Linked DNA regions of Homo sapiens: region 1 is linked to region 2. The links come from fine-mapping of genetic effects on gene expression. A gene starts in region 2. The other region holds a variant in brackets. All regions are shown on one strand. Distances are from middle to middle.

Region 1 (8,325 bases), 32 kb after region 2:
AGTTTGTTTATTCATCCTGAAGATAGGCATTTTTATTTTTATTTTTTTGAGATGGAGTTCCTCTCTTGTGGCCCAGGCTGGAGTGCAATAGCACCATCTCGGCTCACTGCAACCTCTGCCTCCCAGGTTCAAGTGATTCTCCTGCCTTAGCCTCCTGAGTAGCTAGGATTACAGGTATGCATCACCATGCCCGGCTAATTTTGTATTTTTTTTTTCTTTTGAGACAGAGTTTCGCTCTTGTTGTGTGCAATGGCACAATCTCGGCTCACAGCAACCTCTGCCTCCCAGGTTCAAGTGATTCTCCTGCCTCAGCCACCTGAGTAGCTGGGATTACAGGTGCCTGCCACCATGCCTGGCTAACTTTTTGTATTTTTAGTAGAGACGGGGTTTCACCATGTTGGCCAGGCTGGTCTCAAACTCCTGACCTTAGGTGATCCACCTGCCTCAGCCTCTGAAAATGTTGGGATTACAGGCATGAACCACTGCATCTGACTAATTTTGTACTTTTAGTAGAGACAGGGTTTCACCATGTTGGCCAGGGTGGTCTCTAACTCCTGACCTCAGGTGATCTGCCCGTCTCGGCCTCCTAAAGTGCTATTACAGGCGTGAGCTACCGTGCCCAGCCATGGGCATTTGGACTTCTAATTTTTTGCTGCCATAAGCTTTAGAGCACTGAGTAATATATAAAAACAGCAATCATGTAGTTTTTAAAACTTAGTCTGGGGTTAAAGAAGTATGTAAACAACTATGTTTTCTTAAAGATTTATAGGAGCATTGTGACTGGACCAAGGACAAAGAAGTTCCCAACCTCCTCAGACCCTCGCTGCTGCCCAGATGTCTGCCATGGGGTACTTCTTGACCACACCCTCCTTCTCTTCCCTGCCCTTAACATAGAAAGAGCCTAAGATTGTACTGACTTAAAATGGTACTTTAGAACGCTAGTACACCGTCCTCTCAGTCTTGCTGGCTTTCAGAATAAATCAGTAAACCTACTTTTTCTCCCACCAACGCCCCTATCAGTTGGGATCCTCTTACCTCGGCCTCCCAGGTAGCTGGGACTATAAGCACTCACCACCACACACAGCTAATTAAAAAGAAAACAATTTTTTGAGGCAGGGTCTCACTCTGTCGCCATGCTGGAATGCTGTGGCATGACTCGTTGCTCACTGCAGCCTCAAACTCCTGGGCTCAAGCAATCCTCCCACCTTAGCCTCCCAAGTAGCTAGGACTAACAGCGTGCACCACCACACTCAGCTAATTTCTTTTTTTTAATTTTTAGTAGACACAAGATCTTGCTATGTTGCCAAGGCTGGTCTCGAACCTCTGAGCTCAGGCGATCCTTCTGTCTCAGCCTCCCAAAGTGTTAGGATTACAGGCATGAACTACCAAACCCGGCTGAGTTTTTTAAAATCTTAATGAATGCATGGATTTAAATATATTAGCTGTGTTTTAATCAAGTATAGTTATTGAAATTCAAATTATTCGTCTTTGGTTAGGGAGAACTTCTTCAAGTTGGTTGTTCTTCAGTCCTTTTGACACAATTCCAATATATGAGTCTTGGTGGCTCATACCTGTAATCCCAGCACTTTGGAAGGCTGAATGGGGAAGACTGATTGAGGCCAGGAGTTTAAGACCAGCCTGGTCAACATGGCAAGATCCCTATGTCTATTAAAAAAATAATTTTAAAAAAGCAATTACAGTAGCCTGTGATAGCTTCTTTGCTGTTTGGTATGAAAAGATATTTCTTTTCTTTTTCCTTTTTTTTTTTTGAGATGGAGTTTCGCTCTTACTGCCCAGGCTGGAGTGCAATGGTGCAATCTCGGCTCACTGCAACCTCTGCCTCCCGGGTGCAAGCAATTCTCCTGCCTCAGCCTCCCAAGTAGCTGGGATTATGGGAGTGTGCCACCACGCCCAGCTAATTTTTGTATTTTTAGTAGAGATGGGGTTTCCATATTGGTCAGGTTGGTCTCGAACTCCTGACCTCAGGTGATCCACCTGCCTTGGCCTCCCACAGTGCTGGGATTACAGGCATGAGCCACAGCGCCTGGCCTGAAAAGATATTTCTAGACTCATCTAGTAAATTTTCTGCCCCAGATCTGGAATCAGACAGCTTTCCAAGGAGTCCTGATTTCTCTTAGTAGGAAATGATATTTAAAGACTACAGCTTGAGTACTTCGGATACTTATTGCTACTGAGTCAGTCATTGTAGATGTTTTCGGTGAATAGTTAGTACTTTTTTTTTTTTTTTTTTTTTTTGAGACAGAGTTTCACTCTTGTTGCCCAGGCTGGAGTGCAATGGCATGATCTTGGCTCACTGCAACCTCCGCCTCCCGGGTTCAAGTGATTCTCCTGCCTCAGCCTCCCGAGTTGCTGGGATTACAGGCATGCGCTACCACGCCCGGCTAATTTTGTATTGTTAGTAAAGACAGGGTTTCTCCATGTTGGTCAGGCTGGTCTCCAACTCCTGACCTCAAGTGACCTGCCCGCCTCGGCCTCCCAAAGTGTTGGAATTACAGGCGTGAGCCACCATGCCCAGCCAGTAATTTTTTAAAAAATGGGAGTCTTGCTCTGTCATCCAGGCTGGATTGCAGTGGTGGTGTGATCATAGCCCATTGCAGGCTCGAACTCCTAGGCTCAAGTGATTCTCCCTCCTCAGGTCCCCCAGTAGCTGGGACTACAGGCACACACCACCATGCTCAGCTAATTTTTTATTTTTTAGTAGAGAAGAGGTCTCACTATGTTGCCCAGGCTCATCTTGTACTCCTGGGCTCTAGCACTCCTCTTGCCTCAGCTTCCCAAAGTGTTGGAATTACAGGCATGAGCCATTGTGCCCAGCCTAGCTGGTAATTTTTTTTTTTGAGATGGAGTCTTGCTCATTCGCCAGGCTGGAGTGCAGTGGCGCGATCTCGGCTCACTGCAACCTCTGCCTCCCAGGTTCAAGCAATTCCCCTGCCTCAGCCTGCTGAGTAGCTGGGACTACAGGCACGCGCCACCACACCCTGCTAATTTTTTTGTATTTTAGTAGAGACGGGGTTTCACCATGTTGGCCAGGATGGTCTCGATCTCCTGTCCTGACCTTGTCATCTGCCTGCCTTGGCCTCCCAAAGTGCTGGAATTACAGGCGTGAGCTACCGCACCTGGCTGTAATTTTTTTTAAATACGAAATGCATCAGGAGTTCATACTAATGTTTCATATTCAAATTTAGAATTATAGGGTTTTTAAATTTTATTTATTTATTATTATTATTTTTTTTTGAGATGGAGTCTTGCTCTGTTGCCCAGGCTCACTGTAACCTCTGCCTTGTGGGTTCAAGCAGTTCTCTGCCTCAGCCTCCTGAGTAGCTGGAATTACAGGCACCTGCCACAATGCCTGGCTAATTTTTATATTTTTAGTAGAGACGGGGTTTCACCATCTTGGCCAGGCTGGTTTTACACTCCTGACCTCGTGATCCACGTGCCTCAGCCTCCCAAAGTGCAGGGATTACGGGTGTGAGCCACCGCGCCCAGCTAGAATTACAGGGTTTTAACTTAACCTTAGTCACTTTACATGTTTCTCCCATGTCAAAAATCTTGATTTTCTTTTGAGGGAATAGAAAAGTCCACTCTTAAATTAAGTCCATATGGAGTCTCAAGGGACCCAAATAACCAAAACAATCTTAAAAAAAAGAAACAAAGGTGGAGGACTCATACTTCCTGATTTCAAAACTTACTACAAAGCTACAGTAATCAAAACAGTGTGATTCTAGCATAAAGACAGACATATAGGCCGGGCGTGGTGGCTCACGTCTGTAATCCCAGCACTTTGGGAGGCTGAGGCAGGAGTTCAAGACCAGCCTAACTAACATGGAGAAACCCCGTCTCTACTAAAAATACAAAATTAGCCGGGCATGGTGGCCCATGCCTGAAATTACAGCTACTTGGGAGGCTGAGGCAGGAGAATCGCTTGAACCCGGGAGGTGGAGATTGCAGTGAGCCGAGATTGAGCCATTACACTCCAGCCTGAGCAACAAGAGTGAAACTCTGTCTCCAAAAAAAATAAAGACAGACATATGACCAATTGTACAGAATAGGGAGCCCATAAAAATAAAACCTTTCCATATACGGCTGAATGATTTTCAACAAGGGCGCCAAGACCATTCACTGGGGGAAAGGACAATCTTTTCAACAAATGGTTTTGGGAAAATTGGGTATCCACATGCAAAAGAATGAAGTTGACCCTTACCTAACACTATATACAAAAATTAACTCAAAATGGTTCAAATGGCTGGACCTGGTGACTCACATCAGTAATTCCCGCACTTTGGGAAGCCAAGGCGGGAAGATCACTTGAGCCCAGGAGTTTGAAACCAGCCTGGTCAACATAGTGAGATCCTATCTCTACAAAAGAAAAAAAAAAAAAAGAAAAAAATTAGCTGGGCATGGTGGTGCATGCCTGTAGTCCCAGCTACTCAGGAGGTTGAGACGGATTGCTTGAGCCCAGGAGTTCGAGTTCACAGCAGTGAGCCATGCCACTGCACTCCAGCCTAAGCGACAGAGTGTGACGCTGTCTCAAAAAAATAAAGAACTGGGGCCGGGCGCGGTGGCTCACGCCTGTAATCCCAGCACTTTGGGAGGCTGAGGCGGGCGGATCACGAGGTCAGGAGATCGAGACCATCCTGGCTAAAACGGTGAAACCCTGTCTCTA[C/T]TAAAAATACAAAAAAAAATTAGCCGGGCACGGTGGCAGGTGCCTGTAGTCCCAGCTAGTCAGGAGGCTGAGGCAGGAGAATGGCGTGAACCTGGGAGGTGGAGCTTGCAGTGAGCCGAGATCGCGCCACTGTACTCCAGCCTGGGCGACAAAGCGAGACTCTGTCTCAAAAAAAAAAATAAATAAAATAAAGAGCTAAAAAGGGACCAAATACCTAAATGTAGGACCTAAAACTATAAACTCAGAAAAAAACATAGTGCCCCATGTTTTTGATTGCTTATATGTTATTATTTACGTTTTTATTGTTTATATGTTATCATTTATGTTGTATAATATTCATGACATTGAATTTGGCAGTGATTTCTTGGATACAACATAAAAGCACAGACCACAAAAGAAAAAAATAAATTAGGCTTATAAAAATTAAAAACTTTTGTACATCAAATACAATATACTGAAGTAAAAAATCAACCCACAGAATGGTAGGAAATATTTCAAATTACATATCTGATAAGGATTAATACCTAGAACATATAAAGAACTAATAATAGGCCGGGCGCCGTGGCTCACGCCTGTAGTAATCCCAGCACTTTGGGAGGCCGAGGCGGGCGGATCACGAGATCAGGAGATCGAAACCATCCTGGCTAACACGGTGAAACCCCATCTCTACTAGAAATACAAAAAATTAGCCGGTCATGGTGGCGGGCACCTGTAGTCCCAGCTACTCGGGAGGCTGAGGCAGGAGAATGGTGTGAACCCGGGAGGCGGAGCTTGCAGTGAGCCGAGATCGCGCCACTGCACTCCAGCCTGGGCAACAGAACGAGACTCCATCTCAAAACAAAACAAAACAAAAAAACAACAAAAAAAAACACACAAAGAGATACCACTTCACACCCATTAGGATGGCTGTTATCAGAAAAATAAGGTAACAGCTGTTTGCTGAGAAATATGGAGATGTGGAGAACACGTGGAGAAATTGGCACACTTGTGAATTGCTGGTGGGAATGTAAAATGGTGCAGTCGCTCTGGAAAACAGTATGGCGGTTCCTCAAAAGAATTAAACCAGAATTAACACATGATCCAGAAATTTCATAGTACTCAAAACTACTGAAAGCAGGAACTCAAATTGATATCTGTACACCAGTGTTCATAGCGGCATTATTCACAATAGCCAAAAGGCGGAAACAACCCAAATGTCCATTGACGCATGACCAGTGTGATAGTTAATTTCATGTGTCAACTTGACCAGCCCAGGGAATACCCGGATAGCTGGTAGAAAATTATTTCTGGGTATGTCTGTGAGAGTGTTTCTGGAAGAGGTTAGTATTTGAATCAGACTGAGTAAAAGGATCCACCCTATCCAACATAGGTGGCCATCATCGAATCCACTGAGGGCGCAAATAGAACAAAAAGGTGAAGAAAAGGTGAATTCTCTCCTTTCTTGAGCTGGGACATCCAACTTCTCAGACATCAGAGCTCCTGGAGGCCTTCAGACTCCGAGACATTACACCATTGGCTCACCTGGTCCTCAGGTCTTTGGACTTGGAATGAATTACACCATTGGCTTTCCAGGTCTTCCAGCTTGCAGATGGCAGATTGTGGGACTTTTCAGCCTCCATAACTTTGTCATCCAATTCCCATAATAAATCGCCTCTTATATCTGTATCTGTTTGGTTCTGTTCTGGAGATCCCGGATTAATGCAAATGGATTAAAAAAATGCGGCCGGGCACGGTGGCTCATGCCTGTAATCCCAGCACTTTGGGAGGCCGAGGCAGGTGGATCACTTGAGGCCAGGAGTTCAAGACCAGCCTGGCCAACATGGTGAAACCCCACGAAACCCTGTCTCTACTAAAAAAAAAATACAAAATTAGCTGGGTGTGGTGGCGCACGCCTGTAATCCCAGCTACTTGGAGGGCTGAGGCAGGAGGATTGCGCGAACCCAGGAGACAGAGGTTGTAGTGAGCTGAGATCACACCACTGCACTCCAGCTTGGGTGACAGAGTGAGACTCCATCTCAAAAACAAAACAAAACAAAACCCCAAAATGTGGTATATACATGCAAGGGAATATTATTCAGCCTTAAGGAAGGGAATTCTGATACATGCTGTATTGAGGAGCCTTGAAGGCAACATGCTGAGTCAAAGAATCCAGACACAAAAGGACAAATGTTATATGATTCTACTTATGTGAGATACCTACAATAGTCAAATTCATAGAGAAAGGAAGTAGAATACCCATTACAAGAAGCTGGAGAGAAGGGGAAATGGTGAGTTAATGCTTAACAAATGCAGAGTTTATGTTGGGGATGATGAAAAGATTCTGGAGCAGGATGGTGGTGATTGATGGTAGCACACAGTGTGAATGTACTAAGTGCCATTCAGTGGCACACTTATAAATGGGTAACATGGTAGATTTTATGTTATATATATTTAACCACAATTTAAAAAATCTCAATTCTTTCTCTGTTTTTTTATTTAATTTTAGAAATGGGGTCTTGCTCTGTTGCCCAGGCTGATCTTGAACTCCTTGGCTCTGGGCTCAACCAGTCCTCCCACCTCAGCCTCCCAAAGTGCTGGGATTACAGATATGAGCTACTGCACCCAGCCTCAGTTCTCAGTGACACCAACCCATTACTCATTTGCTTTATCTCACACTGTATACAAAACAGTTTCAGAATAATGATACCAACTCTACCTCCATAATGATTTCTTTTTTCTTTTTTTATTTTTCATAAAACTTATGACTCAACATAATAAGATTTCTGAAAATATATTTTTGTAGTTCTTGTCCTTAGGTTATAGCCCACTAGGGATGATAGTCAGATAACTTTGTTTTGAATCTCTTTGAATAGTTAATCTCCATAAAGTTATACCAGCAAATTGATACATAGTTTTATTTTCCCTTTTTAGGAATTGCTTTTTAAAGTTTTATTTTTCTTCATAATGATGTGAAATATTATATCGTTCCAAAGTCAAATCTATATAACAAGATATATTAAAAGAAGTCTTGTTTCTATCCCTGTCCTCTCCAACCTGCTGTCTCCCTTCCCCTATAGGTAACTAATTTTTTTTTTTTGAGATGGGATCTTGCTCTGTTGCCCAGACTGGGGCAATAGTGCAATCATAGCTCACTGTAGCCCCAAACTTCTGGGCTCAAGGGATCCTCACCCTTCAGTCTTCAGAGGAGACTGAGGAGACTGAGGCCTGAGACTACAGGCACTCACTATAACACCCCACTAATTTTTTTATTTTTATTTTTATTTATTTATTTATTTATTTATTTATTTATTTATTTATTTGAGATGGAGTCTCGCTCTGTCACCCAGGCTGGAGTGCAGTGGCGTGATCTCAGCTCACTGCAAGCTCCGCCTCCCAGGTTCACGCCATTCTCCTGCCTCAGCCTCCTGAGTAGCTGGGACTACAGGTGCCCGCCACCATGCCTGGCTAATTTTTTATTTTTTATTTTTTTTTATTTTTAGTAGAGATGGGGTTTCACCGTGTTAGCCAAGATGGTCTCAATCTCCTGACCTTATGATCCACCCACCTCAGCCTCCCAAAGTGCTGGGATTACAGGCATGAGCCACCACGCCCAGCTAACACCCCACTAATCTTTTAAAAAAATTTTAGTAGAGATGAGGTCT
Region 2 (8,283 bases):
CCACCTCCCGAAGTTCTGGGATTACAGGTGTGAGCCACCCTGTCTGGCTGAAGCTTTTCTTTTCTGGGTCTTTTTAGCAGCTCTGGTGGTGCCTGGATTGTAGAGGCGAGCTATGGGCAAGAAAGTCAGTCTGGAGCGGGTCTGCCCTGGCAAAGGGCCTGCCCCATTAGCTCCATCTTAGGGTGGCACATGGAATCCCCATCACCTCACTGGCTGCCCTGCCGGCCTTAACCCGCCCGTGCATCCTGGCCATGCCAGCTACCTGTCTTCCAAAGCTCCTGTACTTTTGCCCAACAGGGCCTTTTAACAAGAGGTCCAGGAGCCCCCAGCTTTGGGTACCACATGTGCCCGTGGCTTTTTTCTGAGGCGAGGCCTGATGGCTGTCATGCTTCAGCTGCCTAAAGGGACCTGTGACCCAGGCACTCTGAGGCAGGCCCACTACTTCAGCCTGCCCTTCCGGCCCCGAGATCTGGATCCCACAATGTCATGATGGGGAAGGTCCGGGGTTCAGGCGGCAGTTCAGTCTGTTCTGCCCCACTCGCTCCCCGCCCCCTGCCCATGTGACATCTGGATGCTCCCGCGCTCGGGGTTATGTTTGTGCAGGAACACCAGCTCCTGCTGCTACCTGGCCCACGTGCTGCACAGGCACTGAAGGTTCACCTGAGGGCCACACCATAGTGTCGGGGCCAGCCAGAGGCGGGTGGGGGACAGGGTTCAGGGCAGGTGGGGCCAGCTCCACCTTGATGACTTGGAAGCTGAGGTGGTAAATGTTGAGTGTGATGATCTTGTTCTCGTTGGGGGCTGCCATTTGTTTGAGCCTCAATTTCTCATACAAACGGGGCATATTCTAGGGCAGAGGCAGGCAGATGCTGCTTGTGAGTGCTAGCCCCAGCACAGGACTTCCTGCTCTGTAAGTGGGTGCTTCCTGGCGGCTTTGTCACTCCTCCCTGGTCTAGGGGAAGGAGCCAACTTGCTTGGTTGCTCTTGAGAGCTGAGATGGCTCTAGGAGCGGGGCATCCCAGAAAGCGGACTTCAGCTCAGTCTTGGGGAGGAGCCTCTGAACCTCCATGCTTTCTCCTCCAGTGGCCAGGGCCGGGACCCCGGCCTGACGCCTGCCCCTCCTCTCCCAGAGCATCATCTACTACGTGAGCCGCTCACCAAAGCTGGAGGTGTGGCTCAGCCATGAGGGCATCACGGCAGCCCTGAGGCCTGTGCGGGTGCCCGGCTATGCCGACTCGGATCCCACCTTCTCGCTGAGTGTGGATGAGGACTATGACCTCCGCCTGTCTGGCCTCTCGCTGCCCTCCTTTTGTGCTGTGCACCTCGAGTGGATCCAGTACTGCGCCTCCCGGCGCAGCCAGGTCAGGCTCCACTACCTGAGGCTGCCACCTGGGGCTGTGGGACCTGGGCTTCCCTGCTCCCCTTCTCCCCATTTGGTTTCCTCTCACTCTGAGCCTCCCTTAGCCTGAGCCCCAGCCCCCACTCCAAGGTCCCTGTCCCAGGTCTGAGCTGGGCTCTGGGATGGGGGTCCTTATGCCACAGCCCGTGGACCAGGATTGGAACTCCCCGCTGGTCACGCTGTGTTTTGGCCTGTGTGTGCTGGGCCGCCGGGCCCTGGGGACAGCCTCTCACAGCATGTCTGCAAGGTGAGTGCTCGGGTGTCCCGCGGGGCCTACTGCCGTCCCCACCCCACCTCTTCCACGAAGAGCACTGTGGTCTCTGGCCACAGTGGCCACAGAAACTGCAGTGGCCCTTCCTGTTGGGGTACCTCTTCTCCCACGGGCAGGGCACTTCCTGGTCATGACCTTGCCTGCTCCTCAGTGCTCTGTGAGAGACATGGGCAGAGATTGGCCTCTTTGTCAAGATGGGGAAACTGAGGCTCAGCGTGAGGAAAGGCCTCTGCTTGGATCACTCTGAAGCCTTACCCCTGGGTCCTCGACACCCCTCTCTCCCCTCCCTGTTTTTCCTCCCACTTAGCCTGGAGCCCTTCCTCTACGGCCTGCACGCCCTGTTCAAGGGGGATTTTCGCATCACCTCCCCACGTGACGAGTGGGTCTTTGCCGACATGGACCTGCTTCACCGCGTTGTGGCGCCTGGGGTTCGCATGGCCCTCAAGCTTCACCAGGTTGGGGAGGGGTGTGCCCAGCAGCATGGGCAGGTGGGGGATGAAGCCTCTCTCCAGGGCAGGGGCCACTGACCCCTGTTCCCGTCTTCTCTACCAGGACCACTTCACGTCCCCAGATGAATATGAGGAGCCAGCAGCCCTATACGATGCCATTGCGGCCAACGAGGAGCGGCTGGTCATCTCACATGAGGGTGACCCAGCATGGCGCAGCGCCATCCTCAGCAACACGCCCTCCCTGCTGGCGCTGCGCCATGTCCTGGATGATGCCTCCGACGAGTACAAGATCATCATGCTCAACCGGCGCCACCTCAGCTTCCGAGTCATCAAGGTTGGGCCGGCCCCACCTGCCCTAAGCCCTGCCCCAAACCCCCTTGGGCCGGCCCCCTGACCCTGGCGTGTGGCTCTCAGGTGAACCGGGAGTGCGTGCGCGGCCTGTGGGCCGGGCAGCAGCAGGAGCTGGTGTTCCTGCGCAACCGCAACCCCGAGCGTGGCAGCATCCAGAACGCCAAGCAGGCGCTTCGCAACATGATCAACTCCTCCTGTGACCAGCCGCTGGGCTACCCCATCTACGTGTCGCCTCTCACCACCTCGCTGGCTGGCAGCCACCCCCAGCTACGGGCACTGTGGGGTGGCCCCATCAGCCTGGGTGCCATTGCCCACTGGCTCCTGCGCACCTGGGAGAGGTGAGGCCTCGGGAAGGGGTGACGTGTGGCGCGGGAGGAAGCTGAGGTGCAGTACGTCCCTCCTGGGTCTCAGAGGGAGGACGTGCTGGAGCCAGGGCTTGAATCCCGAGAGATGACCCCCTCCCAGAGCTGACCTGCCCCTCCTAGATGTCACCTTACCCCCAGAGCTGACAGTGGCCTTTAGTCATCAAGCACTGTTGACAACGCACCCTCAAAAGACTCTGCAAAGTAGGTGGCAGCTTCTTAGAGGGGAGGATCCTGGGGCTCAGAGGTGTTAGATGACTTGTCCTGGGGCTGAGGACTCATGCTTGTGAGGCCTCTGGCCTCAGCCGTGTCCCTCCTGATCCCTTTTCTACCTCTCCACCCCCAGGCTTCACAAGGGCTGTGGCGCCGGCTGCAATAGTGGCGGGAACGTGGATGATTCAGACTGTAGTGGGGGCGGTGGCCTGACCTCCCTCAGCAATAACCCCCCCGTGGCACACCCCACACCTGAGAACACGGCAGGTGAGCAGGCGAGGCTGGGCTGAACCCGTGGGTGAGGAGTGCAGCCCAGCTGAGGCCTCTGCTGTCTTATCTGTCTCCTACAGGCAATGGTGACCAACCCCTCCCACCAGGCCCTGGCTGGGGGCCGCGGTCCTCCCTGAGTGGCTCTGGTGATGGGCGGCCCCCACCTCTGCTGCAGTGGCCTCCCCCTCGGCTCCCTGGACCACCCCCTGCATCGCCTATCCCCACAGAGGGTCCCCGGACCTCACGGCCCCCTGGCCCGGGTCTCCTCAGTTCTGAGGGCCCCAGTGGAAAGTGGAGCCTGGGGGGCCGGAAGGGGCTGGGAGGATCTGACGGGGAGCCAGCCTCAGGGAGCCCCAAAGGAGGTACCCCCAAATCTCAGGTAAGGCACCTGTGGGAGGGTTGGGTCCCAGAAGGCTAAGGCCTGCTCACCCGCCAACCTCTCCCCCCTCCCCCAGGCGCCTCTAGACCTCAGCCTCAGCCTCAGCCTCAGCCTCAGCCCCGATGTCAGCACTGAGGCCTCACCCCCCAGAGCTTCCCAGGACATTCCTTGCTTGGACAGCAGTGCCCCTGAGAGTGGCACACCTATGGGTGCCCTGGGCGACTGGCCTGCCCCTATTGAGGAGCGTGAGAGCCCGGCAGCCCAGCCCCTGCTGGAACACCAGTACTGAGCTACCTGGCGCCCACTGGACCACCTCCTAGGATTCAGTAACGGACCTGCTCTGCTGCCTCTCTGCTGGACCACAGAACTGAGTGGCTTTGGCCTACATGTCTGAACCCTGACCTTTGGCTGCCTTGGCCAGAGTACCAAAACTGAGTGACCCAGACCTCTGACCTTGACCCCTGATCTCTCTCATCCCCAGTCCAGGGCCTGGGCTCCCCAGATGGAGGCAGTCAGCCTCCCAGCCAGGCCCTAAGAGCCAAACCATGGGCTGGTCCCACTTGGAGCCTGTGGCCAGGACCACCTCAGCCCCTGGGCCTGCACTGCCTGCAGGTGTGGCCCCCTTGGCCTGGACCTGGGGCCTGAATTGTGGGAAGGGTGGTTTCTTTCTTTCCTTTTTTTTCTTTTCTTTTTTTTTTTTTTTTTTGTGCTTCGGAGACATCAGAATTAATAACACTATTTTTGATTTTGGTTGGCAGTTTCTTTTTCTACCTGGGAATGGGTACATGATAGTACAGGCGGCTAAGTTGGGATGGACAAGCACGCAGAGGGGTGAAGGATGTGGGGCTGAAGTCTAGTAGAGATCAAGGGCAGACCAAGGTGGGGTTCAGGTAGAACCGGGTCCTCTTCACCGCATGGCTGCTCCCTTTTCAAGCCTTTATCTGAAGGGTATTGTCTGCCATTTCCCACCATATGGTCAGACTTCCAGGTCTGGTGGCTCCTACATTTATCAGGCTTGTTCTTGGCCAAAGCCTTTCTCTGCACCTCAGCTGCTCCAGGGCGTAAAGAGATGACACCTATCTAAGGTGTTTTTAGAATAAATGAGAGCGCGCTAGTGGAATGGTTGCCCAGGGCCCAGTGCTTAGCAAGTGCTCCATAAAATAGTGGCAGACTCTTGAGCACCTGCTGGCCGGGAGCTGGACGCTAGGTGGCCTCCGCTAGCCCTCCCGGTTGGTCTGGAAGGCAGGCACAAGTTTCTCAGGAGAGGAAATGGCCTTAGAATGAGCACTGCTCGGTGCTGACCTCCGCCAGGCCTGGAATCCCCGCTGCTGCGCTTCCCGCCGCAGACAGCTCCCGGCCGGCCCCGCCTCCCGGCATGGCCCCGCCTCCCAGCATGGCCCCGCCCCCAGGCGGAGCCGGCGCCGGGAGCGGTAGCGGGAGAGCGGCAGCGGGACCCCAGCGCGGGCGGCGGCGGCTGGGCGGGAGCCCCAGAGGTACTGGCGGGAGCAGGGGACGGGAGGCACTACTGTCGGGCCCGACAGGGGAGAGGTGGCCTAGCCGTGGGCCCGGGTGATGTGTATGGGAGTGGGGTCCTCGCCACGTTCGCCGCCAGCACCCTCCCAACTTCCCTCCGGGCTCCAGCTCAGTCCCGAGTCAATATGTCCAGCCCCCTGTCTCTGACCAGCCGTTCCTACTCTCTCTGTGTGACGGCTTAGCCTGGCCAGCCAGCCGGTGAGTGGAAGCGGCGGCTCCTGACTCCTGGTGGCGGCACTGTGACCCCCTCCCCCTCAACACTGCAAGTGTGTGCGGGGCTCCCCCTTATTCTGAGGCTCCTCTTCTTCTTAGGCGGCCTCCACCCCAGTCCCTGGCCTGGCCTGGGAGGAAACATCTGTCGCGCCCCCTGGCAGCCGAAATGGGGTCATGACCTCCAGATGTGCTGGGAAGTGGCCAGCTCCTCCTCCTGGGGCAGCCAGGCCTTCCGGATCTGTGGGGGCGGGGCCGGCCCTTTCCCCCCACCCCTAGTGACACAGGCCCGGAGGAATGTCCTAGCCTCAATGGACCCTGTGTGAAGCTTCAGGGTGGGGGGCAGAGCCCGAGAACACCCCTCAAGGCAGCGCCAGAGCCTGGCACTGGGCCACAGCAAGAGGCAGCGCACAGGCTGGGTGCACACATGCACAGATCTCACTTCCAAGCGTGCAGAGCTCAGCCCACAAGGAGCGGGGCTTGCACAGACCCCCTCCCTCATGCCCTCCTACTCCTTCACACACTATAGCCCAGGCCCGAGCGCTGAATGTGCCCAGAGCTTGGCTCATGGAGCCAGGGGCTACACCCGTCACACACACACATAGCTAGCGACACTCACCTCATTCTTCTCAGTCTCTCAGCAGCCTTGGGAGGGGACAGAAATAATTAAACCCAATTTTTTTCTTTGTTTTTTTGGAGACAGTCTCACTCTGTCCCGCAGGCTGGAGTTCAGTGGCGCGATCTCGGCTCACTGCAACCTCTGCCTCCCAGGTTTAAGCGATTCTCCTGCCTCAGCCTCCTGAGTGGCTGGGACTACAGGTGCGCACCACCACACCCGGCTAATTTTTATGTTTTTAGTAGAGACAGGGTTTCACCATGTTAGCTAGGCTGGTCTTGAACTCCTGACCTCAGGTGATCCCCCCGCCTTGGCCTCCCAAAGTGCTGGGATTACAGGCCACAGCCACCGCACCCGGCCAGTTAACCCCATTTTAGAGATGAGAAAACAGAGGCTCAAGGTCAGCATGGGAGTTTATTCAGGAGAAATCAAGGTAGAAGCACCTGGGCTGGGGAGCCGACTCTTGCTTGGTTCTGGAGGCCCCAGACGAAGGGTGTGTGGAGCCCCTCCTCCACCCCCCTCCGGCCCAGCCCCGCATGATGTTGCTGGATGCTGCATGAAGACCCACCATTAGATGCCTGTACCCCCAGTGGAGGTTCCCCAGCTCCCTGTCCTCACTGCCTACTCCATCCAGGGCTTGCCTGGGTGTGGCTTCCCTCAAGTTCTCACACCACCATTTGCACCTGCCTCTGGCGTCACGTTTCCGCACTTAGCAGGTCCCTGGGGCTTTGGGTGTCTCAATCTTGCATCCTGTGAGACCTTGAACCTCAGCCCAACACCCACCCCCCAAAACCTACGCACACAGACAGCAGTGGGCAGGTGCAGCCCTGCTTAGGGCCTGGAGATGGGCAGACCCAGGCTCACATCCTAGCTCTGACACGGAATTGCTTCAGGCAAGAGCATCTCCTCTGGACCTCATCTGACCATCTGTCACATGGGGTTCAGACCTCCCTGTCTGCATCAGTGAGACCAGGTAGGCAGAGGTCCCTATGGGTCCCTGTCATTGTGACTCCTCTTGCCCCCAAGCCTGGGCACAGTAGCCTGCAAGAAGGTGAGTTGGCCTGTCCTTCAGGGCAGGGTGACTGGGGTCCCATGACAGCTGCTGTGACCCCAGCACCTTCCTCAGGATGTGGGGGCCTGGCAGAGGGCTGGGCCCACAGTTGGGGCTACTTCCTGTGCTGAAGGAAGTCCTCTTGCCATTCCTGCTGCCCTGCCGCTGCCTCCCTGGGAACCCATGTGTCCTTGTGGTATTGAGGCCTTGAGGTCCAGGGCACTGAGATCAGACCTCTCTGGGTGATCAGCTCTCCAGGGACCCTGAAGGAAGTGGGAGGGGCAAGGAGGAAGGTCTCTGGGGACAGGACGTCCTCCCTTTGTTAAGTGGGCAGGACCCAGACACCAGTGGCCCCTGGGTTTCCCGTCCCAGCCAATACAAGTCATCTGTCCGGTTGGGCTAGGTCCTGGTGGGACCCTTACTCTGGGCCCAGGCCAAAGCTAAGGTGTGTGGGTGGCGACTGGGGGACCCTGGCAGTCCCAGGGCTGCCCAGGCTCCAGGACCCTCAGGACCAAGACCCAACAGCCCAGCCTCTAGCCTTGCCCAGCTAAGCTGGGGAGGGGGCTGGAAACTTTAGCCCTAGGCAGACAAGGAAGTGGCCTGGAAAGCGGAAGCAGCTTTGATGGTCTCGGAGGGGGCCGGAAGCCAACACGGGTGGTGGAGGACCAGGCTGGGGGCCTGGGTTCCTGTTTTCTGCCCAGGCCCCTCTGAGCAGCCCCCTCCTCCTTCAGGGCAGGAACTGCTGCCACAACCTCAGGCTGGGCACCAAACACCCGTGCCCGCCAATGCGGCCCAGCCCCCGGAGAGTCAGGCCCACAGAGCATGCCCATGTGGGCCGGCGGTGTGGGGAGCCCTCGGCGGGGCATGGCCCCTGCGTCCACAGATGACCTCTTTGCCCGCAAGCTGCGCCAGCCAGCAAGGCCCCCGCTGACACCGCACACCTTCGAGCCGAGGCCAGTCCGGGGCCCACTCCTGCGCAGCGGCAGCGATGCAGGCGAGGCCAGGCCCCCCACGCCAGCCAGCCCCCGTGCCCGTGCCCACAGCCACGAAGAGGCCAGCCGACCTGCAGCCACTTCCACCCGGCTCTTCACTGACCCGCTGGCACTGCTGGGGCTGCCAGCAGAGGAACCAGAGCCTGCCTTCCCACCAGTGCTTGAGCCTCGATGGTTTGCCCACTAT

Evidence for each region. PIP is the estimated chance that this variant, and not a neighbour inherited with it, causes the effect.
Region 1: its variant is fine-mapped to the expression of SIPA1 in whole blood (TOPMed, PIP above 0.99).

What each region holds. Positions count from the first base shown.
Region 1 is chr11:65,665,370-65,673,694 of GRCh38, forward strand. It overlaps RELA-DT (RELA divergent transcript), which reads left to right. Exons shown (of 4, transcript NR_183625.1): 2 at 77-174; 3 at 762-848; 4 at 6,054-6,349. Among named protein-coding and RNA genes, the nearest start is that of RELA-DT, 6.5 kb to the left of the region's middle. The variant C/T (reference allele first, on the strand shown) is at 4,685.
Region 2 is chr11:65,632,996-65,641,278 of GRCh38, forward strand. SIPA1 (signal-induced proliferation-associated 1) reads left to right here and starts at 5,106. Exons shown (of 16, transcript NM_006747.4): 1 at 5,106-5,187; 2 at 7,836-8,283. The coding sequence starts at 7,927. It overlaps PCNX3 (pecanex 3), which reads left to right. Exons shown (of 35, transcript NM_032223.4): 28 at 1,131-1,361; 29 at 1,543-1,646; 30 at 1,978-2,125; 31 at 2,223-2,453; 32 at 2,534-2,808; 33 at 3,179-3,312; 34 at 3,396-3,694; 35 at 3,771-4,444. The coding sequence ends at 3,983. It overlaps MIR4690 (microRNA 4690), which reads left to right and starts at 3,315; the gene lies at 3,315-3,374. RefSeq lists enhancers at 3,927-4,717, 5,669-5,738 and a silencer at 4,949-5,318.